2 linked regions of the Homo sapiens genome follow. The protein of the gene in region 2 interacts with the protein of the main gene of each other region in a pairwise test. Each region holds a gene or a part of one and is shown on either strand. Other genes may lie near its edges. The genes, in order: ZMAT3 and DHX9.

Region 1 (3,824 bases), on a different chromosome or scaffold from region 2:
TAGTTAATCTAGATATATATTATAGCTTCTTTTTTTTTTTTTTTGGAGACGGAGTATTGCTCTGTCGCCCAGACTGGAGTGCAGTGGCACGATTCTTGGCTGACTGCAACCTCCACCTCCTGGGTTCATACAACTTCTTATTTTAAACGCAAAAAAACAAAAATAATAATACTGATATAATTATCAGATGCCAAAGTGATCTATCATATACTTGTTAGTATCTTCAAGAAAGCCGAATTACAAAGAATAAAACCATAGTTCGTGTATATTTCTACTGGAAACGAAGATAGTGAAACTTTATTTGCTTTTTAAAAAATTCCTCTGTGTATAAAACAGCAGGTGGTGATATTTTTCAGGATGGCCACCAGACTGGCAAGACAGAGGAAAATGTAAGTAAACCGTAAGAATCAGATTATCAAAAAAGTCTGGCAAAACAAAATATCAAGCAATCTGAACTTATGGTTTAGATCATGATATAAGCGCATGTTACTATCAATGAAGTAACTCTAAATTGGAAAATCAAACACACCTTTGTTTCCTAAAAACTGCTGGAAAATATATCTATATATATATATATTTTTTTTTTTTTTTTTTTTTTTTTTTTGAGACGGAGTCTCGCTCTGTCACCCAGGCTGGAGTGCAGTGGCGCGATCTCGGCTCACTGCAAGCTCCGCCTCCCGGGTTCACGCCATTCTCCTGCCTCAGCCTCCAGAGTAGCTGGGACTACAGGCACCCACCACCACGCCCGGCTAATGTTTTGTATTTTTAGTAGAGATGGGGTTTCACTGTGTTAGCCAGGATGATCTCGACCTCCTGACCTCGTGATCCGCCTGCTTCGGCCTCCCAAAGTGCTGGGATTACAGGCGTGAGCCACCGCGCCCGGCCCTATTTTTTGAAATCATATCCATCTTAAACTCATTGAATATTCAAATATGAGGCTTGGAAAACCCACAGCACAGCTGGGGCATGAAAATGGGCTTGTTAGACAAGCTGATTCAACTAGGGGGGAAAAAAGAGGAGGGAAGAAGGCGGCAATTATATGTGTGAAATCCACAACTGGAAATCAAGTTTAGCTGTTTGGAAGTATACAAGCTCATTGGGAGTATTTGAATTCAAGAAAATTTGCGCTTCAATGATGGGGAGACATGATACAGAAAAAAAAATGTCCTGGGAAAGACCCTAACAGTTTCTAATAATGTATCCTACTGACAATGCATTGAGGTGGCGGTTCTGGTTAAGCCCTGGGAAACTGAAATCTCTGCTGACCTATTTTTACTTTGATCTAAAAAGAATTCAATACAATTCTTTAACAGTACATAAAACTACAATTGCAAAAGAAAATGGCAGAAAAAAATGTCCCGGGAAAGACCTTAACAGTTTCTAATAATGTATTCTACTGACAATGCATTGAGGTGGCGGTTCTGGTTAAGCCCTGGGAAACTGAAATCTCTGCCAACCTATTTTTACTGTGATCTAAAAAGAATTCAGTACAATTCTTTAACAGTACATAAAACTAAAATTGCAAAAGAAAATGAAACTTTTAAATAGTCAAAGTTCTAAGCCGTCAGGCTACTAGTTGACCAGAACTTGAGCAAGATAAAAAGTTATTTCTGATGGGGTAGGTAGGTCACATGCTATGAGCGGCTCAACACCATTGACCCTGCAAAAGCGTTATGACCTAAGAAGCACGTTCTTCACACCCACCTCCCCCCGCCCCGCCCCCGGGCCCCCAGGTTTTGACATCTCATGGTACCACTGTGGGTTACATGTATTAACATTAAGCAGAGGAATGTACTCATATCAAAAAGACCACAAAGCAGGGCAAGTTGACAAAAGGCAAACAACAGGCAGGAAAAGCTGCTCTATCTTAATATGATAATCACTATACATATCCCAGATTCTCCATCTCATTCCTGTACCGCTGTTCAGACACCTTGCTCTTATGTTGCTTGCTCTCTAAATGCTGCCGGAATTCCATCTCTTCGCCAGCTCCAACATTACACATTGAGCAGTAAAACTGGCCACTTGGAGTAACACACATGGCCAGATCACGTGGAATTCTCTGCCGAGAGCGGGGATTGAAGTAAGGACCTGCTAAAGCAAGAGATAAAAATAATATATTCAAAATATTCATTAAGTGAATGACAACCTGACCAATTATCACTGTAATTTGTAATTCTAAGTTCAAATTATAAAATTCACAGATTCTTAGCTTTAAGTGAATGTGAAGTTAATGGATTTTTAAAATTACAATTTTACACAGGTTCGATCTAAAAAGATAAAATGATTCCTCCAACCATTGTCAGAAAAATTGCTGTAGAGCCAAACCCAAATTCCAAATGGCTGTGTCTCTAAAAAAGTGAATACGCTTTTAAAAATACTTTAATTTCCAAGCATTATATCAGAAGTCTTATGCTTATGCTAACCCTTTAATCCAAAAATTCTACTTGTAAGAATTATCCTAAGAAAATACTAAGAATTTTCACACTGAGATTTAATAGCAATATGTTTATCTCAGCAGTGATTATAAAAGCAAAAATTTAGGGGGAAGAAGAGATTCAAAAATAGGATTAAAGAAAGTATGGTAATGAATGCAATGGAAAACTATGCCATTGCTAAATATAATAATGCTATAGAAAACTCTTACGCTATTAAGTAAACTATGAATATCCCAAACTAGGATCCCATTTCTATTTTAAAGAAGTCATACATATGAAGAGACTAGAATGAAATCTGCAAAAGTGTTGGTGACATTACTGATCATTTCATTTTCTTCTTTTTACATTACTGACCTCATAAGCTGGACGCTTAGTTCGTTAACTTTATGCTTTTCACTTCCACTATAATAATATATAGGTAATACTTTTCTCAAAATACTGCTTTCACTGCATCCTACAAGTGTTAATATATTTTCATTACTGTTTCACTGTAGGAATTTTTAATTTCCAGTATAATTGTTTCTTTGAACCATGAGTTATTTAGAAGTGTTTTTAAATTGGAAAACAAATGGAAATTTTGTTTGCTTTTCTATTTTTGTTGTTGACATCTCATTTCATTGTACTCTGGTCAGAGAACATAATCTATCCTAAAATTTATTTTTCTGATATTAATACAGCTATCCCAGCTTCTTTCATTTCAGATGGATTTCTTTCATCCAATTTAACATTTTTTGGACTTTGGTAATTTTACATTTATTACAATTATTAATATATGTTTAGACTTTTCTTAATCATAATGAATTGTGCTTTTTTTTTTTTTTTTTTTTTTTTTGAGACAGAGTCTTGCTCTGTCACCCAGACTGGAATGCAGTGGTGTAATCTCAGCTCACTGTAGCCTCCACCTCCCAGGTTCAAGCGATTCTCCTGCCTCAGCCTCCCAAGTAGCTGGGATTACAGGCGTATGCCACCATGCCCAGCTAATTTTGTATTTTCAGTAGACACGGGGTTTCACCGTGTTGGCCAGGCTGGTCTCGAACTCCTGACCTCAGGTGATCCACCTACCTCAGCCTCCCAAAGTGCTGGGATTACACGCACGAGCCACAGGAGCCTGGCCTGAATTGTGCTTTCTATATGTCCTTTTTTTAGTAGGCTTCTCTGGCTTTTCAGTTAGCTCTGTTTTCTATTTGTTTCACTGTTCAAGTAAATGACCTCTGCTGGCATGTGCATGAATCAGAGGCTGAAGTAGAGGGGAGGGTGAGGGACTACTCAGCCCACTCTCCCTACTGAAGACAATCAGAAAATGCAGAATTTATTCCTATAAATCAGTGTTTGTGAACTAAATGTGTATATCAGAAGCATCAAGCAAGCATTTTCAAAACACACATA
Region 2 (3,824 bases):
AAGATGTCTGGGATGCTCCAAAATAATCTAAGAAAGGGGAGTAGTTAGAAATGAGTAAAATTGAAAGTGTTGCAGCCAGATGACGGAAACATGGAGTTTCACTATATTATTCTTTTATACACATCTACAATTGTCCACAGCAAAAAAAATTTTAAAATATCCTCTACATGCTCACTTTTGGCAAATGCAATTTATGGCATGAAAGGGTAAGTTCCAGATGAAATAAGTGATTATGAAAAAGGATTTCCCTAGAATGAGGAGGTAAGATAAAGATGGTAGCTGGTAACAGTTTGGTTACGTATCGCTGCCCAAATGTCATGTCAAATTTTAATCCTCAATGTTGGAGGTAGGGCCTGGTGAGAAGTAACTGGATCATGAGGTGGGTTTCTCATGCATGGTTTAGTACCACTTTCCTTGGTACTGCTATCCTAGCAACAGTGAGTGAGTTCTCATGAGATCTGGTCATTTAAAAGTGTGTGGCATCTTCCCCTTTACTTTCTCTTGCTCCTGCTATGTAGGACATCCCTGCTTCCCCTTCACCTTCTGCCATCATTCTAAGTTTACTGAGGCCTCTTCAGAAGTCAAGCAGATTCCAGTACCACACTTCCTGTAAAGCCTGCATAATTGTGAGCCAATTAAATCTCTTTTCTTTATAAATTATGCAGTCTCAGGTATTTTATAGCAATGCAAGAATGGACTAATAATACAGTGGGGTTAAAAGTAGAAATGGGTTGTTATAATTTTTTTTTCCAAATTCATCCATTCATTTACTCAGTCAACCAAAAAACATTTAAGTATCTGCTATAGACCAGGAACCATTCTAAATGTTGGAGACACAGCAACGAACTAAAAACAAAAAAATCCCTGCCCTCACGAACTTACATTCTAATACAATGAAACAAAAATAAATTACGTTGGAACAAGGTTTCTCATCTTGGTGACATTTTAGGCTGGTTAATTCTTTGTTGTAGGAGTTTGTCAAGTGCATTGTAGGTCATTAGCAGCATCCCTGGCCTTCACCTTCTAGATGTCAGTGGCCTCCTCGAGTTACAACAACAAAAATATCTCCATACATCCCCAAACATCCCTTGAGGGGACAAAATGGTCTCCAGTTGAGAAACACTGAGTTAAAAAGTAAGTGTTACGGAGAAAAATAAAGCATTGAAGGAGTTTAGGAAGTAACCTGAGGGTGACAATGTTTATAATGTTAAATAGGACAGCTGGGGAAGAGTCCTTCAGGTATAGAAGTTTTGAGGCAGAAAGATGAGGGCTTATTTGAAGACCTATGAAGAAGTACAGCTACTGTAGCTGGAACAGAGGAAATAAGGAAGAAAGTAGGAAATCCACAGAGCATTTAATAGGAAACACCTGAGCCATGTTAAAACAATAATAAAAAAATCACCTAGGGGATTACTTCTGGTTGTAGCCAAGTAAGTTCCTGTAAGACTGACCCTCCTGCAGGTAAAATAAACTTTAGGGGGAAAAAATACAAACACACACACAACACACCAGAACTATATGCAGGCAATAAAAAATGAACGAAAAAAGCAGGTAGATTCTTGAGAGAAGTTAAAATGGGGAAGCACGGAGTATCAAGGGTCTAATTCCAGTTTACTGTAGCTTTTAGCCTGAGAGAAGCCATCCCAGGCAGCTAAACCTCCAATGAAACCATCTTTTTGGCCTGAAGAATCAGAATTAGAGTTCAGGGAAAGCAAAGCTGCTAGAAAGTGAGGGAATGCTGGAAAGGAAACAGCCAGAGAGGAGGAGCCCCGAATTCTGTATATTGAAATCTCTGGCTAACCCTTGAAAACCACTCATGTACAGGGCAGATTCCAAGCTGCCCAGCAAAGGAGACCTGAAGGACTCTTCCATGGCTGTCCTAAATGATCAGAAAACTGAGGTGAGATCTGAGTTAACATCCAAAAGACAGCATTTGCAGTTTGAGTCCAGTTAAATTAAATGCCTGATTAAAAACAAAACAAAACAAAACAAAAAAACCAAATCAATGCTCTTTGGAGGAGTATAACATTATTCAGAGTCTCCACAGCATAATATTCCAATGCCCAGAATGCAATAAAAAATTATTTGATACACAAAGAGGAAAATGTGATCCAACCTCAAGAAAATATACCTATCAAGAGAATCCAACCCTGAGATGACTCAGATGTTAGTAGTAGTAGGCAAGGATTTTAAAGCAGCTATTAGAATTAAGCTTCATGACATAAAAGAAATCCATATTTATATTACAAACATACACTTATAACGAATGAAAAGAAATGCCACCAGAGAAAACATACAGAAAAGAATAAGCTGGAGATTTTAAAAGTGAAAAAGGTAGTGTCTGAAATACACTGGGTGGGCTTAGCAAAATGGAAGGGACAGAAAAAACTATCAAAGAATCTGAAGATAATCAATAAAAATTATTCAATTTGAGAAACAGTGGAAAAAATGATAGGAAAAAAAAAAGAGAGCCTCAGGGACCTGTGGGATATCAAGTCTTTATAAATATAAACACCAAGAGGAAAGAAGAAAAAATAAAACAAAAAATATCTTAAATAATAGCTAAGTCTCTCAAAGTTGGTGAAATACATAAATCTATGGATTCAATAATCTCAGCAAACCTTGAACAAGTTAGAACACACACATACAAAAAAACCCATGCCCGGTCACAACACAAAATACTAAAAACCAAAAATAACAGGAAAAGATCTTAAAAACACAGACTACCACATTACATATGGGAGAGAGTGATTTGATTATAGCTGACTTCTTACAGAAAACAGCAAGTAGACAGTGTCATATTATCTTTAAAGCCTATCTGGTCTCTGGCTGGACTCAGTGGCTCACGCCTGTAATCCCAGCACTTTGGGAGGCCAAGGCGGGCAGATAACCTGAGGTTGGGAGTTGGAGACCAGCCTGACCAACATGGAGAAACCCCGTCTCTACTAAAAATACAAAATTAGCCGGGCATGGCGGCACATGCCAGTAATCCCAGATACTCCTGCCTGAGGCAGGAGAATCGCTTGAACCCGGAGGCAAAGGTGGCGGTGAGCCGAGATCATGCCACTGCACTCCAGCCTGGGCAACAAAAGCGAAACTCCATCTCAAAAAAAAAAAAAAAAAGTACATCTGGTCTTCAATCCCATTTCCCTGGCATAGAAATCCTAAATCCTTATAATCTCCTAAGTGGAGACTTTCTGTATGCTAACGAGTTGACTGCTGGCTGGCAGGCCCTAGGTAGCTTCAGGTGTGGGGGGATGGTCACCAGAACCACCAAGGAAAGATTAGAGGGCTGAAACTTTCGGTCCCACCTCCCAGCCTCTGGGGAAGTGAGAAGGGCTGAAGGTCAAGTCACCAATGGCCAACGATTTAATCAATACTGAATAATGAAGTTTCCATAAAAACCAAAGGACAGGGTTTGGAGGGCTTCCAAATGGCCGAACAGGTGGAGGTTCCTGAAGAATGGTGTTCGAGGCAGGGCATGGGAGCTCCCTGCTGCCTCCGCCATATCTTGCCCTACTTATTTCACCAACTGTATTTTGTAGTATTCTTTATAATAAACTGGTAAATGTAGGTTTTCCTGAGTTCTGTGAGCCACACTAGCAAATTAACTGACCCCAAAGAGGCAGTCATGAAAACCATAACTTGAAGCTAGTCAGTCAGAAGTTCTAGAGGCCCAGACTTGCAAGTGGTGTCTGAAGGGGCTGGGGAGTCTTGTGGGACTGAGTCCTCACCCTGTGGAGTCTGACGCTATCTCCAGGTAGTGTCAGAGTTGAACTGGAGGATACCCTGCTAGTGACTGCTGCAGAACTGATTGCTTGCTT

The links.
Region 1: the proteins of DHX9 (region 2) and ZMAT3 interact in binary tests that used the Homo sapiens proteins (3 or more experiments, as listed by UniProt).

What each region holds. Positions count from the first base shown.
Region 1 is NC_000003.12:179,023,135-179,026,958, forward strand, and holds part of ZMAT3 (zinc finger matrin-type protein 3), read right to left. Parts: intron 2,095-3,824; coding exon 1,883-2,094; 3' UTR 1-1,882. UniProt on the Homo sapiens protein: Acts as a bona fide target gene of p53/TP53. May play a role in the TP53-dependent growth regulatory pathway. May contribute to TP53-mediated apoptosis by regulation of TP53 expression and translocation to the nucleus and nucleolus.
Region 2 is NC_000001.11:182,845,537-182,849,360, reverse strand, and holds part of DHX9 (ATP-dependent RNA helicase A), read right to left. Parts: intron 1-3,824. UniProt on the Homo sapiens protein: Multifunctional ATP-dependent nucleic acid helicase that unwinds DNA and RNA in a 3' to 5' direction and that plays important roles in many processes, such as DNA replication, transcriptional activation, post-transcriptional RNA regulation, mRNA translation and RNA-mediated gene silencing.